Regions from separate parts of the Homo sapiens genome. Here regions 2, 3 and 4 are each linked to region 1. Evidence: fine-mapped expression QTL. A gene starts in region 1. Each other region holds a variant in brackets. All regions are shown on one strand. Distances are from middle to middle. Region 1 holds the start of PHETA2 (PH domain containing endocytic trafficking adaptor 2). Region 2 overlaps ZC3H7B (zinc finger CCCH-type containing 7B). Region 3 overlaps SEPTIN3 (septin 3). Region 4 has its middle 25 kb from the start of CYP2D6.

Evidence for each region. PIP is the estimated chance that this variant, and not a neighbour inherited with it, causes the effect.
Region 2: its variant is the best candidate, but not a certain one, in a credible set for the expression of PHETA2 in subcutaneous fat (GTEx, PIP 0.51).
Region 3: its variant is the best candidate, but not a certain one, in a credible set for the expression of PHETA2 in whole blood (TOPMed, PIP 0.68).
Region 4: its variant is the best candidate, but not a certain one, in a credible set for the expression of PHETA2 in whole blood (INTERVAL, PIP 0.81).

The regions. Positions count from the first base shown.
Region 1 is chr22:42,071,349-42,078,698 of GRCh38, forward strand. PHETA2 (PH domain containing endocytic trafficking adaptor 2) reads left to right here and starts at 2,900. Exons shown (of 3, transcript NM_001002034.3): 1 at 2,900-2,993; 2 at 4,223-4,304; 3 at 5,932-7,350. The coding sequence starts at 5,946. The coding sequence ends at 6,725. It also overlaps the pseudogene SNORD13P1. RefSeq lists enhancers at 2,220-2,952, 2,953-3,683, 6,294-6,856 and silencers at 3,038-3,417, 3,657-3,951.
Region 2 is chr22:41,348,378-41,355,727 of GRCh38, forward strand. It overlaps ZC3H7B (zinc finger CCCH-type containing 7B), which reads left to right. Exons shown (of 23, transcript NM_017590.6): 16 at 743-924; 17 at 3,184-3,269; 18 at 7,092-7,225. Among named protein-coding and RNA genes, the nearest start is that of TEF, 30 kb to the right of the region's middle. The variant G/A (reference allele first, on the strand shown) is at 4,522.
Region 3 is chr22:41,988,303-41,995,652 of GRCh38, forward strand. It overlaps SEPTIN3 (septin 3), which reads left to right. Exons shown (of 12, transcript NM_001363845.2): 7 at 1,265-1,382; 8 at 3,271-3,366; 9 at 4,362-4,461; 10 at 5,988-6,039; 11 at 6,319-6,412. Among named protein-coding and RNA genes, the nearest start is that of WBP2NL, 6.8 kb to the right of the region's middle. The variant G/A (reference allele first, on the strand shown) is at 3,348.
Region 4 is chr22:42,152,347-42,159,696 of GRCh38, forward strand. It overlaps the pseudogene CYP2D8P. Among named protein-coding and RNA genes, the nearest start is that of CYP2D6, 25 kb to the left of the region's middle. The variant C/T (reference allele first, on the strand shown) is at 3,995.

The DNA.
Region 1 (7,350 bases):
GTATTTATTGAGAAACTGCTAAGTGCCAAATGCTTTGTTCTGGGCATTGTAGGGGCAGAAAGGTGTGATATTTTCCCTTACTCATCCCAAAGGTCACAGCGGACACTCCTACAAATAAAATATAGGTTAGCAAGAGAAAAGCATAATAGATTGATTTACTCAATGTTTTATGTGACTTGAGAGCCTTCAGGAATGAAGACACAAATACTCAGGGAAATCTTTATTTTTATGTCTCGGTTTGATGAAGAATGGACAGCCCTGGCCGGGTCTGGTGGCTCATGCCTGTAATCCCAGCACTTTGGAAGGCTGAGGCAGGGGGATCGCTTGAGGCCAGACATTTAAGGACAGTCTGGGCAACATAGTGAGACCCTGTCTCTACAAAAAATTAAAAAGCCAGGCAGGTGCCTGTGGTCCCAGCTACTCGGGAGGCTGAGGTGGGAGGATTGCTTGAGTCCAGGAGGTCGAGGTTGCAGTGAGCTGTGATTGTGTCACTGTACTCCAGCCCGGGCAACAGAAAAAAAAAAAAAGGAATAAGGAATGGACAACTGTGTATAAACGCGATTAGACAAAAGGGAATGATTTAATGTTAATAGCTGAGTGTGGAAACCCAGCAATGTCTGTTCAGATTCGGATTCTTCTTGTTCTCTCTGTGTGGCATTCCCTCCTGCTGGGAGGAGGGCAGGACCCCTTCTGGAATGAGAGTCTTATGACCTAGTATCAGGCAAGGTAGATCAGAGAATTCCTTTATGGCCAGGCCCGACACAGAAAGGTGGGGGATGTTTCCAGTAATATTTGTAGTTACTTTTTTTTCTTTTTTTTTTTCTTTTGAGACAGAGTCTCCCTCTGTCACCAGGCTGGAGTGCAGTGGCGCGATCTCTGCTCACTGCAACCTCCGCCGCCCAGGTTCAAGCGATTCTCCTGCCTCAGCCTCCCAAGTAGTTGGGACTACAGGCGCACGCCACCATGCCCAGCTAATTTTTGTATTTTTAGTAGAGATGGGGTTTCACCATGTTGGCCAGGATGGTCTTGATCTCTTGACCTCGTGATCCGCCCACCTCAGCCTCCCAAAGTGCTGGGATTACAGGCATGAGCCACTGTGCCCAGCCAATATTTGTAGTTGCTATAACTCACCTTAGGGAGGAGGATTTTTAGTTTCTATGGCCTGCCTTGCAGGAGAAAAACAGGAGAAAGAAGGGGGGCAGGAGAAGGTCAGAGAGATACTTTGCTTCTGAGGCTCTTCCAGTGTCCTTTGGTTCAAAGTACTCAGCATGCCCAAGTGCCATATTTTTAGGCATCGCTTTCTGAGCCCCAACAGCACCTTCACTCAGATGGCCACTGGGTGTCTCAAACATAACCCAGACCAAGCACCGGCCACTTTCCACATCTCAGATAATGACAACTCTCCTAGGTGCTCAAGCCAAAACTGTGCAGTCCTGCCTGCTCTTTCCCTCACTCCCCACATCCAACTCCTCAGCAAATCCTGTGTTCTCTACCTTCAACAGCCATTCTAATTCTGGCTGCCTCTCCCTCCCCGCTCTTGCCGCGTTTGTGACATCTCGCCTGGATAGTGGCAGCAGGCTCCTCACTGGTCTCCAGCCTCCACTGACATTGATTCTCACCACAGAAGCCAGAGTATGCCTTGAAATCGCTCAGGTCCCTCCTCACAGCCCTGTCTAGAGTAACAGCCCTCCCAGATTTACAGAGCCCCATCCCACCCCTTCTACCCCCACCTCCTACTGTCTGCCCCTCCCCAGGCCTCCCAGCCTCACTGGCCTTCTTGCAGGTCCTCAAGCACAACAGGCCTGAGGGCCACTGCGCTGACTGTTCCCTCTGCCTGGAATTGGCATGGCTGGCTCCCTCATTTCCTTCAAGTATTTGTCCAATGTTACTTTCTCAGTGAGGCCTACCCTGACCACTCTATTTGCAATTGCAACCTCCCTACTCCCACAATTTCCCATCTCCCTTACCCTCCTCTGTTTTTCCATGCCACTTATTATCTTCTAACACATTTATTATGGTGTACAGTATTAACTGAATAAAATTTAGTAGGGGAGACAGGCAATAAACAAGAAAATAAAAGCATGAGCATAGGAAAGTTTACTCTAGCAGTGAGTGCTCTGATGGAAATAACACCCCAGGGATGGGACAGAGACTGCAGGGCAGGTTGCTTTACAATGGTCCCAGAGGAGACCACTGAGCAGAGACTCAAATCTGTGTCCAGAGGCGTCCTGAGGAGTGGAGCTGCGGTTGGGGGTGGGAAGGAAGGCCATTCTAGGCTGCAGGAACTGCAAGGGCAAAGGCTCTGAGGCGGGAGCCAGGTTCATGGGCAGATGTTTGAGGACACCTCCGGCTTCCAGGGCCTTCCAGAAGTTCCAGTCTCTTGGGTTTGGTTGTGCATTCCTGCGACCTTCACCGCAGGCCTCCTCCTCCACCCACTAGTGCAGAGCCTGGGGGCTGCCGGTGGGTTTCAGGCCAGGGAAGCAGAAATGGGTAATTTCCAGAGGCAGAAATCAGCCGACCCCGGTGGCCCGGTGGGTGGCCAACAAAGCTTGGCTGGCCCTCGCGGGCTGTGTAGGAGCCCACCCTAGGGAGGTACCCAGAGACATCCCTGGTTTGGCTCTGCCGGGAAAGTGGGCCGAGCAGGGAGAGGGGGACCAGAGAGGAAGAGATGGACAGAGTTTTCCGGACGGTGGGCTGGGTCCGAGGCCCGCGGACCGTCCGAGGGGGGCCTCTGGGTTCGAGGCCGCCCGCACCGACCAGTGCTGTGGCTCGGGCAGTTCACCGCCCTCTCGGGCCTCAGTTTCCCGCCCTGGCAGACCTCGAGGCGGCCTCGGAGATCCCGGGCCTGGCGAATACTGGGCGGGGAGGGGCGTTAACTCCAGCCTCCCGGGCGGGGTCTCCCGGCTCCCGCGGCCACGTTGCAGCCCAGGCGGAGGCGCGGGATCTCGAGCTGGGATCGCCCTCTTGGGCTTCGGTGCGATCGGCGGCGGGAGGTGAGAGTGGGCCCGGCGGGCTCCGGGAGGAGGTGGCCCCAGGGAAGGTGTGGCCGCGGGGAAGTGGCGGCGAACAGCCCCGACGCGAGGACGGGGAAACCAAGGCGGCAGCCAGGGAGACCCTGACCGAGGTGACCTCTGTTTAGGGCGACAACCGGGTTGGGGCTCCCCGCAGTGGCCACTGGCCCGGCGGTCCCGCACCCCCAGCCCGCCTCTCCTCCAACAAAAGAATCCAGGAAGACGGTGGGGCGGGCGGGAGGCCCGGTGTGCGGTGGCCTGGCCCCCCTACTGGTGGAGAGGAGGGAGCGCCCTTCCCCAGACGCGGGGGAGGGGAGGGGTCATGGCCCCACGGGCTGCCCACCCCCTCCCTGTGCCCCAGTGCTGGGCCCAGGACCCCCAGTGAGGCCACTCCTCTGGCAAACATCTGTGATCTCTTCCCCCTTCCTGGGCCCCCCCTACTGGAATGGCGTCTCTCCCCATCCAGGGGCCTGGCTTGTTTTTCTCCATAACCCTTAGCATTACCGGTCCTTATGTTATCTCTTATTTCACTAATTATTCTTTCATTAATTTATTAGTATTTATTTTGTTTGCCTACAGTGTGTTTCCCCCTGTGGGAATGTAGGCTCCAGGAGGGCGGGAGACTTCGATTTGTCCACTGATGTATCCCCATTAATTCAACAGATCCCTCCTGAGGGCCTCTCTGAGCCCTGCACGGTGCTGGGTATTGGGGTTCTCCTGGGAACTTAGCTGAGCCCCACCCTAGACATTCTGGGGCTGGGAACAGTGCTGTAAACACATATGACATCGTCGTGGGATGAAGGAAACAAACCAGAAATGGGGGGGTCTACTGGTCAGGTGACCTTAGGTCAGGCCACCTTGGTGGTCAGGGCCACCTTAGATGATATGGTGATCATGGAAGGCCTCCCAGATTAGGTGACTTCAGTTAAAGCCAGGAAGTGCTAGAAGGGAAAAGCTAGGAACCATGAGGGCATGTGTAGCTCTGACCTGGACTCAGGCAGGGAGCTGGGGTCTGAAGAGTAAAGGTCAAGACAAGGGGACCCATCCCCTTAAGCTGCTCAGGGGTTCCTGGCTGGGTGGATGGGTGGGGGGATTCTCAGGGGTCAGGGAAGGCTTCCCGGTGGAGGCTGTGGTTTCATTAGGCCTCGAAGGTGGAGTAGGAGTTCTCATTCTTTGGGATAAGCTGACTGGGCTTGAGAATTGTTTTGCAGGTTCCCTGGGAACCAGGTGGTCGAAGGGCTGAGCTGTGTGGCCAGACAAGAGGTCCCTGCCCTCCCCCAGTGAGCCCTGCTGGTAAGTGGGTACAGTGTGAGGGATTTGGGAGACGAAGCTCTGCGTCTCATTGGCCATGTAACCTTGGGCAAGTTCCCCTCACTGCGCTGGGCCTTGGTTTTCCATGAGTAAGGACAGCTGGACTAAGTGCCGTTCATGATGCTGGGGGCACCCACATTCAATGGCTGTGGTTAGCTCTTCTCAGCTGTACCCTGGGTTTGTGCCACACTCTTGTGTACAGAGTAGCTCCCCATCTGGCCCTGAAGGCTGCAGATTGAGACAGAAAAATAATGTTTTATCTGAGGAATTGGAGCCCCTTTAAATAATCAGGCCCAGACATACTGAAACGCAACAGCTGTCAAGTCTTACTCCTCCCTTGAGCTAAAGAATTATCTCTTTTTCTTTTTTTTTCTTTTCTTTTCTTCATGTCAGATCGGTAATGTGCCTACATGGTAACAAGGTTCGAGGGTGGCACAGCTCACACATGCATGTGAACACCCAATCATCACGCTCATGAACTACAAAAGGATCAAGAATTACCTCTTGAAGCCACTTGCTATGTGGCTCTAGAGTGACACCAAGTAGCCATAAAATGCTGTACACTGGACACCCTATAGTTCATACCCTATAGTTCAACAATGTATAGCCAATCACTAATCAATGTTATTTCTTTTTTTTTTTTTGAGATGGAGTTTCTCTCTTGTCACCCAGGTGGAGTGCAATGGCACAATCTTGGCTCACTGCAACCTCTGCCTCCTGGGATCAAGCAATTCTCCTGCCTCAGCCTCCCGAGTAGCTGGGATTACAGGCACCCACCACCGTGCCTGGCTAATTTTTGTATTTAGAGACGGGGTTTCACCATGTTGGCCAGGCTGGTCTCCAACTCCTGAGCTCAGGTGATCCACCCACCTCGGCCTCCCAAAGTGCTGGGATTACAGATGTGAGCCACCGCACCCCACCAATCAATGTTATTTCTATAAACCAAGGAGAATTCCTGCCAAACAACTTTGTCATCCTTGCCCCCTTCTGCCTATAAAAACCTGTAGGAAAGGCCCAACGCAGCACACCCCACGGCAACTTAGAAGTTTGTTCTGGGCAGTTATCCTTACTCTCGCTCAAGTAAACTCTTTAAAGTTATATTTGTGCCTCAGCTTCTGCCTGTAGGTCAATAAGATTCAACAGCTATATGCAAATAAGAGGCCAGTAGAGGCCCAGGAGGGTCATGGAAACCCTGGAAGCTTGGCCTCAGAGTTGGAGTTGAGAGGACCCCAGATGAGGGGATAGTTTAAGCACAGTGGTTTCGATGGGTCTGGGGTCCATTTCAGCTCAGCTGGGGCCTGTTTCTTTGGATTTTAGAAAGCCGTGCCCAGGTCCTGCCATGCCTCCTGTCTGATGCAATCTCGTTATTCTTTTCTCGAAGTCCGCCAGTGTCCAGTTTTTTTTGCATGATCCTCACGACATCCCTTTGAGAGAAAAGGAAGGAAAGACGAGCCCACTTCTCAGGAGACTTTAGGGACCTTAGGGACACAGCAAGCGAGTAGGAGTCCCAGGGCTGGGGTCCAGGTTGCCTCTGGAGCCGGTGCTGTTCCCCAGGAGGGCACGGAACCACCTCCCTCTCTGATCTGCTGCCATCTCTCTTGCCTCACAGTTCCCGTGGGAGCCATGAAGCTGAACGAGAGGAGTGTAGCCCACTATGCACTCAGCGACTCCCCAGCGGACCACATGGGCTTCCTGCGCACCTGGGGGGGCCCAGGGACCCCACCGACCCCCAGTGGCACTGGCCGAAGATGCTGGTTTGTCCTCAAGGGCAACCTGCTATTCTCCTTTGAGAGTCGCGAGGGCCGGGCCCCACTGAGCCTGGTGGTGCTGGAAGGCTGCACAGTGGAACTGGCCGAGGCTCCCGTGCCCGAGGAGTTTGCCTTTGCCATCTGCTTTGATGCCCCTGGAGTGCGCCCACACCTGCTGGCCGCAGAAGGGCCGGCGGCCCAGGAGGCCTGGGTGAAGGTGCTGTCCCGGGCAAGCTTTGGCTACATGCGCCTGGTGGTACGCGAGTTGGAGAGCCAGTTGCAGGACGCACGCCAGAGCCTGGCTTTGCAACGCCGCTCATCCTGGAAGTCTGTTGCCAGCCGCTGTAAGCCCCAGGCTCCTAACCACCGAGCTGCGGGCCTGGAGAATGGCCACTGCCTCTCCAAGGACAGCAGCCCTGTGGGCTTGGTTGAAGAAGCGGGCAGCAGGTCTGCAGGGTGGGGGTTGGCTGAGTGGGAGCTGCAGGGCCCTGCCAGCCTCCTCCTAGGCAAGGGGCAGAGCCCTGTGTCCCCTGAGACCTCCTGCTTCTCTACCCTGCATGACTGGTATGGCCAGGAGATCGTGGAGCTGCGGCAGTGTTGGCAGAAGAGGGCCCAGGGGAGCCACTCAAAATGTGAGGAACAGGATAGGCCCTAAGTCTGGGCCCTTTGAGTCAGGAAACCAGGGCCAGTTCTTTTTCAGGAGTTAAATGTTTACCCATTTCCAAGGTTGCGTTTTGGGAGGGGACATGGGTTCTCTCCTTCCTGCTATTTAGGCATTCTCCAGGTTCGAGATCCACCCGTGTGTCTGGAAGGGACTGCGGGACCATTCCTTCCATCCTCTTTATTTCCTGAGGTCCAGAGAAGGAAGGAGACTTAGCAGCCACAGAGCAAGACCCCAATCTCCTGACTGCACTGGCCTGACTGCCCCCTCCCAGGGGATGTTAATGAAATGAAGGAAGTGGGGAATGTCACCCGAGACTGTCACAGGCTTGCCATACCTTTGGCCTACACACCGGGCTCTAGAGCCATAATTTCCAACCTGGGGAGTCTCCTGTGCACTTAAATCCGAGGTAGGCTGCAGTATCGGCTTGAAGCTCTGACACTGTCAGAGAAAGTGGATTTATTGTGTCATAGGAGTTTCTGGGACCCAGCTCTTCCTGAGAGGGGTGGGAAGATTGGGGATGGGATCCTCACTCAGCAGTCTGGGTAGGGCCCTTTGAGGCAGAGGGTCTTCGGCCAGTGAAGAGAGATTTATTCTGCTCAGAGTGCTGGGGTCCCAT
Region 2 (7,350 bases), 720 kb before region 1:
TATGTTAATTATCTTAGCAATCCTGTGAGGGAGGAGTTACTGGCCCTGTTGTACAGAACAAAAAGCTGAGGCTTGGAAGTAGCTTACTTAGCTTACTCAGCTTACTCAGCAGACAGCAAGCGGGGGGCCTCGTCTCTGACTGTAGCCCAGCACCCTCCAATGTCATGACATCAGTGTCAGGCAGTGAGGGGAGGCCTGGGTCAGGTCTGGCACCACCCCTTTCTCCCTCTTGTTCCCCTTGGTTCTGCCATGGTGTGCATATGGAGCCCAGGGCCTGCAGTCAGACAGACCTGGGTCCAATTCCTGGGCCAGTCCTGTCTTACGTCCAAGCCTGGGTTTCCTCGTCTGTAAAGCTGATGATGCTCTAGGCTCCTGGGGCTGCAGTGAGGGTAATTAAGACTCCTGGCCCAGAGGACATGCTTGGTTAGTGTTCCTCAGGATGCAGGACCGGCTCTGCAGAATCAAGCTGGAAACCTGAGGGCGGTGCCCTTTGCTTGTTGGCAGCTCCATCTTTGAACCCTGGGGGAGGGACAGGAGTAAAGCAGCGCTGGGACCCAGGCCCAGGGGTGCCTGAGCATAGGAGCCCTGTTTCTGCCCTCCTGTGTCATCCATGGCCTGGATTTGGTACATAGATCAGGGGGTGCCCAGGGAGAGCCTGGCACTGGGAAGGTGGCCCTACCAGGAGAGAAGGTCAGAGGGGCTGCGGACTGCATCGTGCCCCTCCTGCCTGCCCGCCCGCCAGGTGCCTGGTGCACATCGTCCGCTCCACCTCCCTCAAGTACTCCAAGATCCGCCAGTTCCAGGAGCACTTCCAGTTCGACGTGTGCCGCCATGAGGTGCGCTACGGCTGCCTGCGGGAGGACAGCTGCCACTTCGCCCACAGCTTCATCGAGCTCAAGGTCTGGCTGCTGCAGCAGTACTCAGGTGAGGGGCAGGCGGTGCAGGTGGAGGGCAGGTGACTCAGGTGAGGGGTAGGCGGCGCAGGTGAAGGGAGCGCAGGACTGACTGGGGTGACAGGCCAGGGCCCCATGGTCGCTGGAGGGGGCTTCGGGAGAGTTCAGGAGAGGTGGCTGCGGGGTGGGCTCTCTGTGTGTCCCAGGCACCACAGAGGAGAGAAGCTCTGCTCTCAGGGCGCTTCCAGGCTCGGAGATCTGGGTTTTTCCCTTCGTAGGCACCGTCCAGGGAGCACGGAGAGGGGAGAGGAGCACCTGGGCTCCTGCAGCAGGACCTCTGCTTGCTCCCTGGGTGGTCGGCAGCAAGTCCCCGCTCCTCACTGAGCCTCCAGTGCTCATCTGGGAAATGGGGAGCCCCATCTCTTCCTCACAGAGCTGCTGCGGGGATTGGAAGGTGTTCTCCACTCACCCACCAGGGATTTACTGAGCACCTTCTCTTGTCAGGGCATTCAGCCATGGTCTAGTCGAGGCCCTTACTTTCAGAGAACCTACATTTATAAGTGGGGGCCAGACAGATAATATATCAACAGGTGAATAAATCCTGTATTCCATCCATTCTAGGATGCACATTTACCCCTACTGCCTGTCATCATTTAATTAGCAGCATTTTGTGGGGCGGGGATTTAAAATATGGTACATATAACATTCAGTGTCTGCTTAGAGTTGGTGAAATGCAGTGGTAGCATTTCAGGCGTGCCTCAGTGTTATGAGGAAGATAAAGCCGAGCAATGGGACAGAGACAGACTCGGGGATGGGAGCATTTTAGGTAAGATGGCTGGGAAGGCCTCTCTGAGGAAGTGACTTTTGACCAGGGAAGGGCGGGGAGTGCATTCCAGAAGAGGGACCAGACTGAAGTCTCTGAGGCAGGAGCAAGCTCTGCACAGAAAGGATGGTCCCTGGGGGTAGAGCAGCTTAGTCAGTAGAAGGGGAATGAGGCCTGAGAGGTTGGAGGGGACTGAGCATGTAAGAGTCTCTAGGCCTTAAACAGGAACAACTGGGGTTGTTCTAAATATGATTTACAGTGTCTGGAGGAGGGTTTTAAGTGGGTGGAGTTATATGATCTGATCAGTACTTTGCAAAAGTCACTCTGGCTGCTGGGTGGAGATCGAGGAGCAAGGGCAGAAGCCGGGAGATCAGGGAGGGTGGCTCGGGCCAGGGTGGTGATGCTGGAGGTGGGAGAAGTGGTTAGATTCTAGGTGTATTTTGAGGGTGGAGCCAACAAGATGTGTTGATGGATCAGATATGAAGTATGAGACAAAGGAGAGCGTCAAGGTGGACTCTAAGATCAGAGCAACAGGAAGAATGGGGCTACCATGTTCTAAGAGGGGGCAGGCTGTAAGAGGAGCAGCTCAGGCTCAGTGTGGGACGTGGGAAGTCTGAGCTGCCTGGTGGACTTCACATGGAGATGTTGGAAGCAGCAGATGTGGGGATCTGGAGGTTCACAGGAAAGGTCTGGCCTGTAGATACATACTTGCAGATCATCAGCAAGAAACTGGATGTCAAGTGCAGTGTCTTGCCCCAAGTAAGCACCGATGATGATTAGCTGTCGTGGAGCAGGGGCCATAGGTCAAGGTGGAAGGCCACATCTGTTGTGGGAAAGACGTGAGAAAGATGGAGAGCGCTGAAAAGAGGGCAGGCTTCATGGAAGAGTTGTGAGCTGGATCTCCAAGGTCGGGCTCAGTGGCAACAGTCTGAGGCTGGCGGGGAGACAGACTGGAGAGTCCATGCCACCAGGCTGGGGTATTTGCCCTTTGGGGACTGGCAGTAAAGAGCCGTGGTACCACAGTGAACCGGTGAGCCAGGCTGGGCAGGCATGGAGCCCTAAGTGCCAGTGAGGCCAGGGGCTGCCAAGCAGGCACTAGGCTTGCAGCCCTGTTGAGGGAGATGGGGGTCAGGGAAGGGTGCTGAGTCACCGGCCCAAGAGACAGGGTCACTGGCATGGGAGCAGAGGACTCCCTACCACAGTACAGAGCCAATATCTTTCTACTGCATTTTCCCACTCTTGGCTGCATTTAATTCTTTCACTTCCAGTGAGGCTCGGAGCAGGTCTTTGTTCCCATTTTGCAGATGGACAAAGTGGTTCCCTTGTACCCCATGTCTTACTGTGGCTGGGCTGAGAATAGGGCTCCTCCAGCTGGGCCTCGGGGGTCCCTGGCACCTCGTGGACCCCCTGCCTCCCTCCTTGCTGAGCACCTTGAAAGATGCCTGTGTCTGCCCCCACCCTCCCCAGGCATGACCCACGAAGACATCGTTCAGGAGTCTAAGAAGTACTGGCAGCAGATGGAGGCGCATGCGGGGAAGGCCAGCAGCAGCATGGTAAGGCCTTCTGATACTATGCCATTATTCAGATTTTGTGAATTGTCCCCAAATTACAAACAGGAAGGCTCTAATTTTACAATAGAGAAATGTTTACAATGGAGGCACCTCGAATAAGTTATGAAAGTAACTTGGATAATGTACACATTCAGCTGTTGTGTCTCATTTTATTTTATTTTATTTTATTTTATTTTGAGACAGGGTCTTGCTCTGTCACCCAGCCTGGAGTGCAGTGGTATGATCATGGCCCACTGCAGCTTCCACCTCCTGGTCTCAGGTGATCCTCCTGCCTCAGCCTCCTGAGTAGCTGGGATTACAGGCATGCACCACCACACCTGGCTGATTTGTCTATTTTTTAAGACCGTGGGTCTGGGGATGTGGGGCTTGCCATCTTGCCCAGGCTTATCTGAAACTCCTGGGCTCAAGCAATCCTCCCACCTTGGCCTCCCAAAGTGCAGCGATTACAGGCATGAGCCTTGTCGTGTCTCTTTTTCATCTCCCTTGATGAAGAAACGGTTCTTTAGTCTTTGCCTTGTGTTGCATTGAGGTTTTTGAAGAGCCAGATGTTTTGTAAAAGGTCCATCCCTCTGGGCTCGTGTGAGTTTCCTCATTCCACAGAGGTGATGTCGTGTTCTCAGCTCACACATCAGGGGATGCGTCATCTCAGTGTGTCCCTTCACTGGTGACAATCTAATTAAACTTTCATAACTTGATTCAAGGTGCCTCCATTGTAAACATTTCTCTATTGTAAAATTAGAGCTTTCCTCTTTGTAATTAAGACTATACTTTCAGGGATCATTTCTATAGTTTGTAATTAATAAAGGTCTTCAGAGGCCCGGCGCAGTGGCTCACCCCTGTAATCCCACCAGCCTTTGGGAGACTGAGGCGGGCGGGTCACGAGGTCAGGAGTTCGAGACCAGCGTGTCCAACATAGTGAAACCCCATCTGTACTAAAAATACAAAAAATTAGCTGGGCGTGGTGGCGGGCGCCTGTAGTCCCAGCTACTCGGGAGGCTGAGGCAGGAGAATCGTGTGAACCCGGGAGGTGGAGGTTGCAGTGAGCTGAGATCACGCTGTTGCACTCCAGCTAGGGCGACAGTGTGAGACTCCGTCTCAAAAAATAAATAAATAAATAAAAAGTCTTCAGGAGGCCTGGCGTGGTGGCTGACGCCTGTAATCCCAGCACTTTGGGAGGCTGAGGTGAGCGGATCACCTGAGGTCAGGAGTTTGAGACCAGCCTGGCAAACATGAC[G/A]AAACCCCGTCTCTACTAAAAATACAAAAAAATTAGCCGGGCATGGTGGCGGGCACCTGCAATTCCAGCTACTTGAGAAGCTGAGGCAGGAGAATTACTTGAACCCAGGAGGCAGAGGTTGCAGTGAGTTGAGATTGTGCCATTGACCTCCAGCCTGGGTGACAGAGTGAGACTCCATCTCAAAAAAAAAAAAGAAGAAAAAAAGGTCTTCAGGAGAAATACGTTGAGACCTTGTAAATATCCCAGTACTGCTCGGACTGACACCACTGATTGTGGTATCCCCTCCCATCCCTCCTGATCTTCGCCATGGTCCTGAAGAGAGCATGGGATTGTGGCATTTGCAGATGGGGAAGCTGAGGCTGAGAGATTGTTAGTGACTTGCCCAGGGGCACACTGAGTGGGGCAATTCCCAGGTTCTCTGACGTCCTGTCCGGGGCTCGCTCTTCTCCCTCCCCACCTGCGGCATTCCTGTCCATCACCCCCAGGCGGGGATCAGAACCCTGGCCCTCGTATCTCCTGGGGTGGGTGTGAGGCTCACAGGAGCCAACCTAAGCTGCCCTGTGCTCACATCGTCCCCAGGTGGTGGGATCACTGTAACTGTAGATGACAGTGGAGGACCCTCGGGCTCAGAGGGGTGGGCACAGCGCCCAGGAGACAGTAAGTGTGAGATGAGGCCTCTGTGCCATCCAGGCATGAGCACTGACCCTTTCATCCACATGAGGCCACCTGCTGATTAACTTGGGGGAAGGCTGGGCCCCTGGACCCTTCAAGAGGCTGACCAGGGTGTGGCAGGGAGCAGGGCAGGCTGCCGGGGGGTCCCTGGGCCAGGCTGGCTGGCAGGGCTGCCCACCACCTCGAGCATTCCCTTGCTCCCTGACTTCTTTGTTCCTGGTCCTCTTCTCTTTTTCTCCCCTCTTCCTGGTCCCTGCTGCCCTCCATCAGTCTCCTGTGCAGTCCTCTTTTCCCCTCCCCATCTGTTTCTTTTTCCTTCTGGCCAGGAGCCTGGCAGGGAAGGAGTGAGGGGCTTATGGGACCTTTGAAAGAGAGAACACTAGCTGGGTGTGGTAGCTCACCTGTAGCCCAGCTACTCAGGAGGCTGTGGCAGAAGGATCCCTTGAGGCCAGGAGTTTGAGATCAGCCTGGGCAACATAGTGAGACCCCTCTTGCCACCTGCTATGGCAAGGAGCTGGTGAGACTATGCAGTCATCAACGTGGGCATGGGGTCTGGCTCTAAGGGAGGAGCTCAGGACTGCAGTGGCTGTCATTAGTGCAGTGGCTAAGCCACCATACCCTCGGTGCCCCCTTTATCTCGCCCAAGAAATGGTAATAATGCCTTCCTCTCACGCTTCTTGTGAGAATGGAGGGGAACACCCAGAAGTCAGTAGCCACATGGGTCCACTTGTTGCCTGCTCCAGTGCAGGCCGTCCCACGCGTAAAGGCATGACCTCACCTTATCATCAGGGTCACACGTGTGTTATTCTGGGGCTGAGCAGCCCACGAGTTGTCCAGCACCAGGCCAGGGGTCAGTCAGCAATGAGGACAGCTCCTTCCTGCTCCAGGGCAGGCCCTGGGCAGGGCAATGCTGGGGACACGGTGGGGAGTAGGCCACAGCTTCTGTGGGGGAGTTCCTATGGCAGGAGGATCATGCCCAGCAGCCTGGAAGAGCAAGGGGTGACCCTGCACTCGAGGCTCCTGGGAAGACGGGGAGGCTTGAGGTTATATGAGGGAGAGGGGACAGCTGGTGCATTCACAGAACAGCAGGCTGGCCAATGTAGCCAGCTGAGGGGGTTCAAGGTGGCAGGAGACAAGGCAGAGTGAGCATTTTTCCTACCTCTGGCCCCCAACCCTGTCCCGGGGTACAGAAGAGCAGGCCAAAGGCTGGGGCGTAGGACAGAGAAGGAACGTGGTGGGTGGGGCCTTAGAGACCAGCAAGGCCTTGCCCTGGAGGGAGGGCCAGAGACCAGGGCCACTCAGACGCCTGTCCCACCGCCCAAGGCTGACTCCTGCCACCACCACCCTACCCCTGCCGGGGTGGCTTCCCATCTCCTGGACCCCCCGCTCTACAGGTTCGGCACTCATAGACGGGTGAGTCGGTCAACAGGAGCAGTTTAGAGACTGTGGGAGCTCACTGAATGGACAGCTGCAGCTTAGGAGAGCTCCGGGGCAGGCTTCCCACAGGAGATGCGCTTGAGCTGAGTTTTGAAGGATAGTTTCTAGAACAGGCTGGATGAAGAGTGGAGGAAGGGCAGCGGGAACAGCCTGTACAAACGCAGGGAGGTGTGGCGGAACGGAGCTTTGCCATGGGAAATGCAGCATCCACAAAGCAGGCCTCCCAGGGAGTTGGGCGAGGCAGGGACCAGCCACAGAGGGTGGAAAGAGGAGCCCCGTTCCAGGCCTGGCTCTCCTGGGAAGCCCTTGGGCCTGCAGTTGGGAGGTCACTGCCTGCCAGGAAGACCTGGGAGCAGACCAGCTTATTCCAAGGCTCTCCCAGAGGACACCTGTGTGGAGACTCCAGGGCCTCAGGCCTGGTGCCTGCAGCTTCACCAACCCCCCTCCCCATCCCCCCACAGGGTGCTCCGAGGACACATGGGCCCAGCACCTTTGACCTGCAGATGAAGTTTGTATGTGGCCAGTGCTGGAGAAACGGGCAGGTGGTGGAGCCTGACAAGGACCTCAAGTACTGTAGTGCCAAGGCCCGGCACTGGTGAGTGGGATGCCAGGTGGGGGCTCAGGTGGGATGGGGCCACCCTACCACCACAGGTGTGGAGGCCAACTGAGAGAGGCCAGGGCTCTCCACAGAGGTCACACAGCACACAGGCTGTGCCCTGA
Region 3 (7,350 bases), 83 kb before region 1:
ACACAAGCATGTTGGGAACTCTGATTGTGAGTGACAGGTGGGCCCCATGAAGGAAGTGCTGGGAACAGGCAGAGGATGGAGATCCTAGGGGGCAGGCCAGAAACCTTCCTGCAGAGACCGGGGGAGGGGGGTCCCATAACATTACTAAGCCCAGCTGCTGGGCCAGAGTTAAGCTCTTCAGAGGATGGCACAAGCAAGGTAAGCCCCAAATTTTCTAGGAACCAGGCAGTGATGGTAGGGGGAGAAGAGAGATGAAACAAGACCCCTGGGCTAGACCCAGGAACTCAACAGAAGGCTGGTTTTATCCCTCCCTAGGCTTCGACCCCCTGGTCAGAATGAACCATCAGACAGACTGACTTAGTGAGTCCCTGAGATTGCAAAATAGAGCCAAGTTGGGGTCTCAGAGCCTGAGGTAGGATGGGGGCATAGACTGTCAGATTGTGGGAAGGGCAAGGCCTCCAGTTTGGCCCTGCAGGACTAACTCTGGGGGCTAGGAGGAGACCTGTCAAGAAGTAGTCTGATAGGCAGAACAAGATGTACACACTAGGCACGGTGGCTCTCGCCTATAATCCCAGCACTTTGGGAAGCCGAGGCAGGAAGATTGCTTGAGTCCAGGAGTTCAAGACCAGCGTGGGCAACATGGCAAGACATTGTCTCTACACAAAATTTAAAAATTAGCCAGACATGGTAGTGCGCAACTGTGGTCCCAGCTCCTCTGGAGGCTGAGGTGGGAGGATTGCTTGAGCCCTGGAGGTCAAGGCTGCAGTGAGCCAATGACCATATCACTGCACTCCAGCCTGGGTGACAAAGTGAGACCCTGTCTCAAAAAAAAAAAAAAAAAAAAAGACACACACAGTGTTGTTTTTTTTTGGTTGTTGTTGTTTGTTTTTTGTTTTTGAGACAGACAAAAAAGGAAAAAAGACACACACGCACAAGGACATATGAGTAGAGACAGTAGTCCACAGATGCTCCCAGGAGAAAGAAATCCCTGAGTCAGAAAAGATGTCCTGAAGTGGTGGTTTGAGGGGGGCTTAAAGAGAGGCAGAATCTGCAAGGGGACTGAAAAAGAAAAAGGCAGGTGTTGAGGCTGCTCTACAGACGGCAAGGCAGTGGGGCTGTGTCGGAGACGAGAGGTAGCAGCCTCTTGGCCTCAGCCAGATGCCCAGCCCAGTCCTCTTCTCCTGTGGGTGTCCTGGAGTGGTGGTGGTGGCTGAGTTGGGGAGGGCAAGGTGGCTCTGATGATTCTGCCTTTTCTGTGCCCCAGCTTGCGACCTCTGGATCTTGAGTTCATGAAACACCTCAGCAAGGTTGTGAACATCATCCCTGTCATTGCTAAGGCTGACACCATGACCCTGGAGGAGAAGTCTGAATTCAAGCAAAGGGTGAGAAGGCCCCCTGTCTTCTTTTCCTGTTCCCATCCCCTCCTTTCTCTCCGCTGGGTTCAGGCCATCTCCTAGCCCTCATCATTCTGCCTTCACCCCCACCCTCAACCCTCCCCCAATTCTCCACCCCAGCCCCCTTCTTAACCATTCAAGAGGCTGAGGTTGGTGGTATCTGGGGACTATGATGAAGAAAAGATGGCACAGCTCTGGGCTGCCTTCTTCCCACCCTCCAAACCTACCTGTGAAGACCACTGAATACATGTATCACTGTGTACATAAGAAATCACTCCTCCAACGTTAGCCTAATTGAAGGGCTAGACTAATTAGTGAGTCAACTGGCCACTAGTCCTCACTGGCATCTTCTCTTTGTTTTTTTTTTGGAGTCTCTCTCTGTCGCCCAGGCTGGAGTGCAGTGGCGTGATCTCGGCTCACTGCAAGCTCCGCCTTACGGGTTCACGCCATTCTCCTGCCTCAGCCTCCTGAGTAGCTAGGACTACAGGCACCCACCACCACGCCTGGCTAATTTTGTTTTTCTCTTTTTAGTAGAGATGGGGTTTCACTGTGTTAGCCAGGATGGTCTCGGCTAGTCTTGATCTCCTGACCTCGTGATCTGCCCGCCTCGGCCTCCCAAAGTGCTGGGATTACAGGCGTGAGCCACCGTGCCCAGCCCTCACTGGCATGTTCTATAAGCTCAGCCCTGTGCTGGATGTACAGGGTTGGGGAGGGGCGATTTGAGAGAAATGAAAAGACAATTGCTGCCTTTAAGAAATTTACAATCCAGTTGGGCGTGGTGGCTCATGCCTGTAATCCCAGCACTTTGGGAGGCAGAGGCGGGTGAATCACGAAGTCAGGAGATCAAGACCATCCTGGCTAACACGGTGAAACCCCGTCTCTACTAAAAATACAAAAAAATTAGCCGGGTGTGGTGGCGGGTGCCTGTAGTCCCAGCTACTCAGGAGGCTGAGGCAGGAGAATGGCATGAACCCGAGAGGCGGCGCTTGCAGTGAGCTGAGATCGTGCTACTGTACTCCAGCCTGGGCGACAAAGTGACACTCTATCTCAAAAAAAAAAAAAAAAAAAAAAAGAAACTTACAATTGGCTGGGGGCGGTGGCTCACGCCTGTAATCCCAGCACTTTGGGAGGCCAAGGCGGGTGGATCACCTAAGGTCAGGAGTTCGAGACCAGCCTGGCCAACATGGTGAAACCCCATTTCTACTAAAAATACAAAAATTAGCTGGGCGTGGTGGCATATGCCTGTAAGCCCAGCTACTAGGGAGGCTGAGGCAGGAGAATCACTGGAACCCGGGAGGTGGAGGTTGTAGTGAGCCAAGATCGCACCACGGTACTCCAGCCTGGGCAACAGAGCAAGACTCGGTCTCAAACAAACAAACAAACAACAAACAAACAAAACTTATAATCAAATAGAAAATGAAGAGGTCCTGGATGGTTTCCTGGAGAAGGCAAGACTTAAGTCGACCTTGAAAGAGGGCAAACAGTCTCGGAGTAGGGGGAGCCTCACCTTTCTTCCTTCCAATCAGGAATATAACATGCAGGGGTCTGAGCACTCCCCAGTGGGCTCACCTGTGCTGCTTGTGTAAATCCCAGTCTCGCGGACCCTGAGATGAGCAAGCTGGTTGCGAGGCGCCTGGGACCTGAAGTTGCACCTCCTGGCCTCTTCCTCCTCTCAGGCTAGGTTGTAATTGTATAGCTGGGGCTTGCATTTATTCACCATCTTCCTGCTGCTCAGGGTCTCAGAGTTCAGAGATGACTGTGGATTATCCAAGGCTGGATTTGGCTCTCTGACCTCAGCTCACGCACACAGGTGCACACACCCCTCTTTTCCATTACCCTGACACTTGACTACCTTGTTTCTTCTCCTCGCCTCTAGGTTCGCAAGGAGCTTGAAGTAAATGGCATTGAATTCTACCCCCAGAAGGAATTTGATGAGGATTTGGAGGATAAGAC[G/A]GAGAATGACAAAATCAGGGTGGGTGCCTGGGGCACTGCTCCTCCACTGATGCCCCCTTGCGACCTCTGGGATGTGTATTGTGCACGTCCTCTGTCTGTCTTTTCCCTTTCTGTACTCCCCCCAACCTTGCCTGACCCAGACCAGAAGTGACATAGGGGGATGGGGAGGACTATGGCCCTGGACTGTGAACCCACAGAAGGGCTCCCTGTACCCAGAAAGCCTTCTATCCCCAGACCACATAAAAGCCTCCTTTTCCCCAACAAGGTCTGGCAAAAACAGTATTTGGGGTGATGGGAGGGGCAGCAGGCAGGAAGAGCATCAGGCTGGGGTCCAGGAGGATCTATGCTGTGGTCAGACCCTGCCTTAGTTTCCCCTCTATGAAATGCAGGGGTTAGACTGAGTGGCTTATAGGCTTCCCCCGCTAGAATAACTTAAAAAAATTAAATTGGCTGGGCGTGGTGACTCATGCCTGTATCCCAGCACTTTGGGAGGCCTAGGTGGGAGAATCGCTTGAGCCCAGGAGTTCACGACCAGCCTGGGCAACATGGCAAAAACTTATCTCTACAAAACCTGCAAAAATTAGCCAGGCATGGTGGCGCATGCCTGTAATCCCAGCTACTCGGGAGGCTGAGGCAGGAGAATTGCTTGAAGCCAGGAGGTGGAGGTTGCAGTGAGTTGAAATTGTGCCATTGCACTCCAGCCTGGGCAACAAGAGCGAACTCTGTCTCAAAAAAGAAAGTACAAAGCGCTCTGCAGCTGAAGGAGAGCTGATTCCTGAGGTTAACCAGTGAGGCAGTGGTACAATTGGGACTAGACCCAGGACTCTTCAATCTCAGTCGGGTGCTCTTTTCAAGAGACTGAGCCTTGCCCTTGCCATCAGTAGTATCTCTGAATGAGCATCAGAAGTGTGTGGTTCAAGGCTAGAGGACCATATGCCATCCTGCTCCTGAAAGTCCAGGTTGTTGGAGGATGACGGTGCACATGTGTCTGGTTTGTGTTTCTGCCCCGTGCAGCAGGAGAGCATGCCTTTTGCTGTGGTGGGAAGTGACAAGGAGTACCAAGTGAATGGCAAGAGGGTCCTCGGCCGAAAAACTCCATGGGGGATCATCGAAGGTAATTCACTGCATCTTCTGGAAGAACTGGTTGCTGATCAGTTATCCAGTCACCATTTATTAAGCATCTATAGGTCAAGGCACTGTCTCAGGACATATGAAATGAATGCCAGCCAGATTCTGCCCATAAGGAGCTTACAGTCTCATTGAGAAGACGATGCTCACAGGCAGGAGTAACAAGAGACTGATTTAGCACCTGACTGGGTGGCACTGACTTAGCGCATCAAAGGAGTTCAGAACATGGAGAGATTAGTAAGGCCTGGAAAAACTGGAGAAAGGTTTTCATAGGAAGGGGGATGTGATCTGACAAACTGCCGGAGGGTTGTTCAGGTGTTGCCATTTCCATTTTATTATGAATGGATGTGACCCTGGGCGGGTCTTGATGATTCTGAAAGTGGTCAAAGAATCACTTTAATGATTTCATTCAATATGATAACCCTATGAAGGGAGGAGAGCGGGTGCTCCTGTTCTCAGAGTATAAGCTACCAAAGCACCGGAAGCTCAGGTTAAAAGCCTTGTCCAAAGCACATAACTTGTTAGTGGTGAAACTTGATTTCAGACTCAGATTTTTTTTTTTTTTGAGACGGAGTCTCACTCTGTCATCCAGGCTGGAGTGCAGTGGCGCAATCTCAGCTCACTGCAACCTCTGCCTCCCAGGTTCAAGTAATTCTTCTGCCTTAGTCTCCCAAGTATCTGGGACTACAGGTGCGGACCCCGATTTTTGTATTTTTTATTTATCCCCAAAAATTAGCCCAGCTAATTTTTGTATTTTTCGTAGAGATGGAGTTTTGTCATGTTGGTCAGGCTGGTCTTGAACTCCTGACCTCAGGTGATCCATTTGCCTTGGCCTCCCAAAGTGCTGGGATTACAGATGTGAACCACCATGCCTGGTGATTTTATTTTTATTTTTAATAGAGGTGGGGGTCTCACTGTGTTACCCAGGCTGATCTCAAACTCCTGGGCTCCAGTAATCCTCCTACCTTGGCCTCCCAAAGTGCTGGGATTACAGGCATGAGCCACAGCGCCTGGCCCCATGTCTTAATCCTCATTCTGTTCCAACAGTGCTTGGCCAATGATTTGCAAATACTAGGTATTCAATATATGTTGAATTGGATTTGTCATGTAGTGCATGACCTTTTTAAAATGGCTCAATTATTATTTTCTCTGTGTTACTTCCAACCGGATTATAAGCTTCTGAAGAATGGGAAGTGTATCTTAGGCCTTGGCCAGTTTCTCAGACTTGGTATTAGTTTTCTCTTCTATAAAATGGTAAAAATTATAGTCCCTCTTGGCTATTATGCCACAGCGTCTAGAAGGATGTCGTGCCCATTGTAGCTGCTTAATATTTGTTCAATGAATCAAATCCAGTACACCCAAGTGAGCAAATCTCTGGAAGGGTTACAAAAAATGACCTGTCCCATAGCTTTCTCCTAAATGCCTCCGTGACCCAAACAGAAGCTCACCTCCTGGGTGTTGCTGTATTAATGAACTGACTACCTGTTTTGCTTTGTTTTGTTTTGTTCATAGTGGAAAACCTCAACCACTGTGAGTTTGCCCTGCTTCGAGACTTTGTCATCAGGTAAGATGTCTCCCCTCCAGCTGTCCAGACAGCAGGTTGAATTATTTGGGGTCAGGGTCTATCTGTTCAGATTCACCTCCTGCATCTCCAGGTCTCTCTGACAGAGCTTTCTGCCCCAGTTCCAGCTCCTGTTGCAAAATGGAAGGTGCTGTAGAAGAATCCTTAGCTCCTGGGAGTGGTTCCCATTCACTGGGTCCAGTCCCTCGAAGTGATGTGTGTCACCGCCTCCTCTTCCTGCCCCTAATTGCAGCCCTCTTCTTCTCACCCTGTGTCCTCTAGGACCCACCTCCAGGACCTCAAGGAAGTGACACACAACATCCACTATGAGACTTACAGGGCCAAGCGGCTCAATGACAATGGAGGCCTCCCTCCGGTGAGCGTGGACACAGAGGAAAGCCACGACAGTAACCCATGACGACCACTTCTCTGTGTCATCACACATACCCACTTCACACACACACATCCCAAATACCACCACCAACCACCTTCTTCCTCTCAACTCTGTCCCACAGGCCTGTCTGGTATTTGTGGAGCATCTTGTCTGTGTGTGTGTGTGTGTGTGTGTGTGTGTGTGTGTGTGTGACAGAGAGAGAGCGAGAGAGCCTGTGTGTGTGCATGCAGGGGTGAGGTATTTTCACTGCCCTCCCTGGAGAGTCCCTTGTAAGTTTGGCTCCTCCATGCCTGTCCATTATCTGTCTCCTTTCCTTGTGTCCCAAAACAAAGCTGTTTGCCTCACTCAGGAGATCTGGGGGAGGTTTCATTTAAAAGTGCTGGGAGCAGGTGAGCCACAGGCAACTCTTCTCTCGGAACCTGCACACAAACTGGGGCTATAGAGATTCTCCAAGGACAGATGGCAGTGGAGCTAGACCTGAGTAGGGGGCAGGGAGTTCAGGACAACCCTCCTGTAAGTTGGGGGTGGTCTGGGGGTAAGGCTGGGGCTTCCTGGGAAAAGGAAGGCCATGAGAAGGCAGAGAAGTAGGCCAGAGCTGGGTTCTTGCAGAAAGCATCAGTGCCTACAAATGGAGCTCCACCCTTCAGTCTGTGTCGTGTTCAGTGTCACAAAGCTACCACCTGTCACCAGAGCCTACTGCTGCTCTCCACTCAACTGGCCTCTGCTGCCAGGCCACTGCCTGTCTCTGCTTCCGACTTTGTCTTCTTTCTCCCTTTCCCTCCTTCCCTCATACATTGCTTTCTCTCCCTCTCCTGCGTGTCTCTGACATCTCTCACTTCCTTTTAGATGAATCTACTTTAGGTTCATTCCTATATTTAGCATTTATGCCCAGTCTACTTCCAGAAATGACTTTAGACTGC
Region 4 (7,350 bases), 81 kb after region 1:
TGGCTTGGTCGGCGAAGGCGGCACAGAGGCAGGCGGCCTCCTCGGTCACCCACCGCTCCAGGGACTTCTTGCCCAGGCCCAAGTTGCGCAAGGTGGACACGGAGAAGCGCCTCTGCTCGCGCCACGCGTGTCCGTAGTGTGCCAGAAACACCCCTGGGGGCGGGACGGACACATGGGCGTGGTCATGGAGGCCTTGGCCCCGCCCTCCGCCGCCCACTCCAACCCTGTGCTTTTCCTGGTCTCCCGCAGTCCCTGGCCCTGTCCAGCTGGGCACAGGGCCTGCTCTTTGCTCACTCACCTTGCTTGGGTCTTGGCCCCACCTTGGCTCTTCCGACCCTGACTGCCTTTCCACTCAGGGAAGATCCCGCCCGTCCCGCCCCGCCCATACTGAGCCCACAGCAGAGTCCATCCCGGCTTCTAGACACCCGCTTCCAGCTGGGAAAGGCGCCAGCTCCGCCCACCCGGTTCCTGGTGGGTCTCGGCAGTTGCCCCGCCCACTCACAAGCCCCTCTTCCTCCCGCCCACAGACTCGCACCTCCCCAATGGAAGTGGTTTCCTGGCTCGCTGTCCCCAACCCACTCACTGGCCCACAACCCCGCGCCCTCTCAGCCCAGCTTGGGCTACGGTCACCGCCCACCCAGGACCCACGGAAACGCAGTCTCTGTCCCCCACCGCCGCTTGCCTTGGGAGCGCGGCCCGATGCCCAGGACCTGGTAGATGGGCGCAGGCGGGCGGTCGGCGGTGTCCTCGCCGCAGGTCACCAGAGCCTCACGCACGGCCGCCAGCCCATTGAGCACGACCACCGGCATCCAGGCCAGCTGCAGGCTGAACACGTCCCCAAAGCGGTGCCGCAGCTGTAGAGGGAGGGTCAGGGCCTCCGTTGGGTCAGGGCCTCCATCAGGCCAGGGTCCCCCCAGACTGCAGGTCCTAGTCCTATTTGAACCTTAGACGACCCTCGGGGCTACCAGGAGTGAGCAGGTGGAAGGAGGAGACCCAGCCTCCCGATCCTGGGGCGGGGATGGGGTCACACCTTCTGTGATGGAGGAACTCAGTTTGGATGCGTCACCCAGGTATGACCTTGCAAGAGTCACCAAAATTGCCGAGAGGCCCCAGTTAGCATCCCATTCCCAGATGATGGTCCATGCCGGTGAGCAGTGAGGCCCGAGGACCCACAGTGCAAAAGGTTTGAACCGGGTCCACTATATCCCTTCATCCTTGATTTCTAACTTACTCATTTATTTAGACCATGTCTGGCTCTGTCACCCAGGCTGGAGCGCAATGGCGCGATCTTGGCTCACTGCAACCTCCACCTCCCGGGTTCAAGCAATTCACCTGCCTCAGCCTCCCATGTAGCTGGGATTACAGGTGCCCACCACCGTGCCCCGCTAATTTTTGTATTTTTAGTAGAGGCAGGGTTTCACCATGTTGGCCAGGCTGGTCTCGAACTCCTGACCTTGTGATCCCCCCACCTTGGTCTCCCAAGATGCTGGGATTACAGGTGTGAGCCACCGCGCCCAGCCGTTGATTTTTTTTTTTTTTTTTTTTTTTTTTTTTTTTGAGACAGAGTCTCGCTCTGTCGCCCAGACTGGAGTGTAATGGTGTGTTCTCAGCTCACTTCAAGCTCTGCCTCATGGGTTCATGCCATTCTCCTGCCTCAGCCTCCCAAGTAGCTGGGACTACAGGTGCCCACCACCTCGCCTGGCTAATTGGTTTGTATCTTTAGTAGAGACGGGTTTCATTGTGTTAGCCAGGATGGTCTCGATCTCCTAACCTCATGATCCGCCCGCCTTAGCCTCCCAAAGGGCCGGGATTACAGGCGTGAGCCACCGCGCCCGGCCTGATTTCTTATTCGTTTATTTAGACATTGTCTGGCTGTGTCACCGAGGTTGCAAGGCAATGGCACAATCTCCACTCACTACAACCTCTGCCTCCTAAGTTCAAGCAATTCTCCTGCCTCAGCCTCCCAAGTAGCTGGGATTGCAGGCGTGCACCACTGTGCCCAGCTCATTTTTTGTATGTTTAGTAGAGACCGGTTTTTGCCATGTTGGCCAGACTCATCTGGAACCCCTGACCTCAGGTGATCCGCCCACCTTGGCTTCCTTAAGTGCTGGGATTATAGGCGTGAGCCACCACGCACAGCCTGATTTCCTGATTTAAACGGCACACAGGACCCTGACTCGTCTTCCATTCCCAAGGCCTTTCCTTCTGGTGTCAGCAGAGGGGACTTTGTGCTCCTAACATATGCTGCCCAATGGGCTTGCACGCCCACTGCCAAGTCCAGCTCCACCTCCAGGCCCTTGCCCTACTCTTCCTTGGCCTTTGGAAAATCCCATCTTTCATGCCATGCATAAATGCCCTCCCCCAGGAAGTCCCTCAAATCTGCTTCCCCTTCTCAGCCTGGCTTCTTGTCCAGACTGTGGCTCCACCCACCACCCATGTTTGCTGGTGGTGGGGGATCCTCAGGACCTCCTCCCTCACCTGGTTGAAGGTGTATATGTTCTGGAAGTCCACATGCAGCAAGTTGCCCAGCCCGGGCAGTGGCAGGGGGCCTGGCGGGTAGCGTGCAGTCCAGCGTTGGTGCTGCTGCATCAGGTCCACCAGGAGCAGGAAGATGGCCACTGTCACTGCCAGGGGCACCAGTGCATCCAGCCCCATGGCTGCCTCACTGCCCATTGGGCTCCTCTGGACACACCTGGCACCTCCACCCCACCAGGCACAGAGGACCAGGCAGGACACTCTCAGCACACCCAGTGCATGACCGTTCCCTTATAAAGGGAGCTGATGATGGCCTTTGCCTTCTGCTGTGAGCCAACCTGCTGTGTTGACTGTGCTGCCAGTGGGTGCAGGGTCAGGCCAGGGCGGGTATGGGCTGCTGCAGAGGTCCTTGCCCCTGCTCGCTCTAGTTGCCTACCCAGATTAGGGTGGTGGGCGAGAGGTGGCCTGGCATGGGAGCTCCACCCAAGTTGGAGGTATGGATTGTACTGGGTGCTGGGCTGTGTACTGGGAGCATGGTGGTAAGGCTGTGAGTCAATGCCCCAACGTAATGATGACCACGGGGAGTAGGAAGGTAACATAGCTGACATGACAAGCCAGCAGTGCCATGAGGGTCCATGGGGACGTTGTCCCAGGCTGGAACAGGACTTTCTGGGAAGGATTCATGGAGAACTTTGTCTAGCTGACTGAGGGGCTGCCTAGCACTGTAGGCCACGGCACTGGCAGTGGGACCAACCCACCCCTGGAATTTCCTGTGCAGGTGGCCTGAGGGGCAGCAGGAGGCCAGCAGCTGGAGCCTGGGTCTTTTCAGGTCTGGATGAAGACTGGATCTGGGGAACAAAAGGCAGGGAGAACAGTTTATTTAAAATTTAAAAATATATATATATTTTTTAGAGACAAGATCTTGCTCTGTTGCCCAGGCTGGAGTGCAGAGCTGTGATCATAGCTCACTCAAACTCCTGTGCTCAATCAAGAGATCCTATTTTAGCGTCCTGAGTAGCTGGAACTACAGGTGCACATCATTACGCTCGGCTAATTTTTTTGTTGAGATGGGTCCTCACTATGTTGCCCACGCTGGTCTGGAACTCCTGGCTTCAAGTGATCCTCCTGCCTTGGCCTCCCAAAGTGTTGGAAATAGAGGCATGAGCCACCTGGCCCAACAGAAGTTTTGAAGCTACTCAACTGACAGAGAGAGCAAGACCCATGCCTATCTGGGGACTTCTCAGATCTGGCTTGTGGTCTCCCAAACTGGCCTCAGCTGAATGAATGTTCCTGTCCTACATGGCAGCACTGTTCTATTTGGGACTGTGAGAGAATCAAGGTGCAGGGACAGCAGGATGGTCTGGGTGCTTGTTACATGGTGGCCCTTTATACATTACCTGTATGCACTCTTGGCCTTTTGAGGTGTCAGGCCCTCCCCAAGCAGTCATCATGAATCATGATGGGGGTGTGAAGGGCAGGGACAGGCATGCCTGCAATGTGGGCAGTGTCCTCCCGAGTG[C/T]CCTCCTTACCAGCCAGAGGCCTGTAATTCAAGATATGGCAGCATGAGGAAAACATTTAATAACAATGCCTGTGGCCTTTTCCAATCATTGTGCACCTGTGGCTTCCATTGATCGGGCACTTATGTGCCAGAAACTGCTGGTCAGACTGTGTGCTCTAGCTCATTAATCCTCCCACAGCCCCCTAAGGAGGTGGTTTTATGGTCCCCAAGGCACAGAGACTGAGGCTCAGAGATCACATAACAAGGTTCAAGTCACACAGCGGTGTTAGGAGTCCACATCCAATGTGTATGCTGAGCTACTATTCTATACTGTTTGGACATTACATTCTATTAATGGTCAGTATAGATGTTTCTGGGATTTATTATTTTTAGGAAACAGATCCAACCTGCCTTCCCTGAACAGTGGTACTGCTGTGTCATGGTAAAAAGTGCACTGTGCCCTGGCAGGCCCTATGGACGTTGCCAAGTGAGATGGTGTGAAAATATGTCAGCAAGTGGTAGACTAGGAAACTGCGGGCTCTCGTTCTCCTAGAGAGCTCAATGTTAAAGCTATAGGAGACCAAAACATCGTGAGAATTCTAGAAACTAGTTAGGATGCTGCAATGCCAGCTAGTGCAGAGCCAGGGAGGGACTGCACTGGGAAGGGTAGTCAAGTTGGAGCATTTTGCTTGTTCTTGCCCTTCCCCCTGCCAGGCATAGCAATGCTACTGGGAGAGACCCTCCAATTCCCAGCTCCTCCCATGGGATGGGTTTCTGCTGGGTCCGACTCAAGAGTGCTGAGTGGTGGGGTCTGTCTGCCCTCAGAGCAGCACCTCTGCGTTTCCACAGCTGCAAGGGGACGGGGTTATGGGCAGTGGAATAGTTGTGTCTGGGTATCCTGGAGGGGATTGGTGCCAGGACCCCCGGTAAATACCAAAACCCAAGGATGCTCAGGTTCCTTATGTAAAATGGCATAGTATACCTATGCAAATGCTCCTGTATACTTTAAATCATCTCTAGATTATTTGTAATGCCTAATACAGTGTAAATGCTACATAAATAGTTGCTATACTGTACTGCTCTTATTTGTATTTTTAGTTGTTATACTTTCTCAAGTTATCTTTGATGTGTGGTTGAATTTGTGGATGCGGAGCCTGTGGGTATCGAGGGCTGCTTGTACCCTAGAAACAGAAATGGAAAGCTCCAGGGGCAGGGCCAGCCTGCAGGGGGGCAGTTTAATGGGTAAAGCTTCCGTTGTATAAAATGAAAAATTCTGGAGATTGGTTGCACAACAATCTGAACACATTTCCCACTAAACTGTACTGTGACTGTTATGATGGTACATTTTTTTAACCACAATTTAAAAACTTTATGAGTATTAAAAAAATAAATGGCTATATACACACCTATTAGAATGGCTTAAATCCAGAACACTGACAACACCAAATGCTGGCAAGGATGTGGAGCATCAGGAACTCATTCATTGCTGGTGGGAGTACAAAATGGTACAGACACTTTGGAAGAAAGTTTGGCAATTTCTTTTCCTTTTCTCAGTTTTTTTTTTTTTTTTTTTTTTTTTGAGACAGAGTCTCACTCACTCTGTCACCCAGGCTAGGAGTGCAGTGGCACGATGATCTCAGCTCACTGGAACCTTTGCCTCCTGCGTTCAAGCAATCCTCCCACCTCAGCCTCCCGTTTAGCTGGGACTGCAGGCGTGAGCCACCATGCCTGGCTGATTTTTGTATTTTTAGTAGAGACAGGGTTTCACCATGTTGGCCAGGCTGGTCTCAAACTCCTGACCTCAGGTGATCCAGACAGTTTGGCAATTTCTTACAAAACTAGACATACTCTTACCATACAATCCACCAATCGTGCTTCCTGTACTTACCCAAAGGAGTTGAGGCCTTATGTCCACACAAAAACCTGCAAAGGGATGTTTACAGCAGCTTCATTTGTAATTGTCAAAACTTGAAAGCAACCAAGATGTTCTTCAGCAGTTGAATGGATAAACTGTGGTACAGCCAGACAATGGAATTATTTATCACTAAAAAGAAACAAGCTATCAAGTCATGAAAAGACACGGGTGAACCTTAAATGCACATTACTAAGTGAATGAAGCCAATCTAAAAAAGGCTACCTACTATCTAATCTCAACTATATGATACTTTGGAAAAGGCAAAACTTTGCAGACAGTAAAAGGCTCAGCGGTGAGGGACTGGGGCTAAGGAGGAATGAACAGTGGGACACGGAGGATCCCTGGAGCAGTGAAACTACTCTGGATCATGGTGCGTCCTCGTCTTTTTGAGACAGGATTTTGCTGTCACCCAGGCTGAAGTGTGGTGGCGCGATCACGACTCACTGTAGCCTCGACCTCCTGGGCTCAAGTGATCCTCCCATCTCAGCCTCCCAAGTAGCTGAGACTACAGGCATGCACCATCATGCCTGGCTAATTTTTGTATTTTTATGTAGAGATGGGGTTTCGCCATGTTGCCCAGGCTGTTCTCGAACTCAAGCGATACACCCACCTGAGCCTCCCAAAATGCTGGGATTATAGGCGAGAGCCACCACGCCCTGCCAGATCCAGGTCTTTATACATTTGTCAAAGGCCATAAAATGTACACCACCGGGAGTGGCCCCTAGTATAAACTATGGACTTTGGGTGAAAACAGTATGCCAACTCTGGTTGGGATGTTGATAGAGGGAAAGGTATGCATACGGGGGGAAGGGGTTATATGGGAACTGTCTGTACCGTCAGCTTAATCCTTCTGTGAACATAAAACTACTTTAAAAAAATCAATTAAGACAAACACTAAAGGAACTAAAAGGCACTTGAGCAGTTGAGGAGAACTGCAGAAGCCAGAAACTGGAGTCAGGAGGCATGCGTGTATCACTGCCACTCCCCAGTGAAGGTCATTACTGAAGCCAATTTAAGGAAAGACCTAGAACAATCACAAGTGCTCCACTCAGGCAAATCAAAAGGGGACAAAAGAATAAAAGACAAAATGACAAACATTTGCTGTCAGGAAAATATTTTCCTCAAGATACATATTTTTCAAGTTTTGTGGTTTAGCCCTTGACACCTGAAGTCTATCCATTTCATTTTAACTGTATTAATGCCAAGTCAAGACCAGAATGAGACAACAACTAGCTCAAAAAAGCCATCATTTCTGTGCAGGTCCTGTTCAGTTGCCTAAGCTTGGTCCTACGGCCGGCACGGCGCACCCACCCACACCTCCATCCTGGCGGAGTGAAATGAGAAATGGACTGCTTGATGTAGCCATTAAAATACAATTAATCTGCCATTTCTGCTGCCCCAAATTGATGAACACAGAACTCATTTATAATTGCTTATTTCTGCTTCACAATATTCCTTCCAG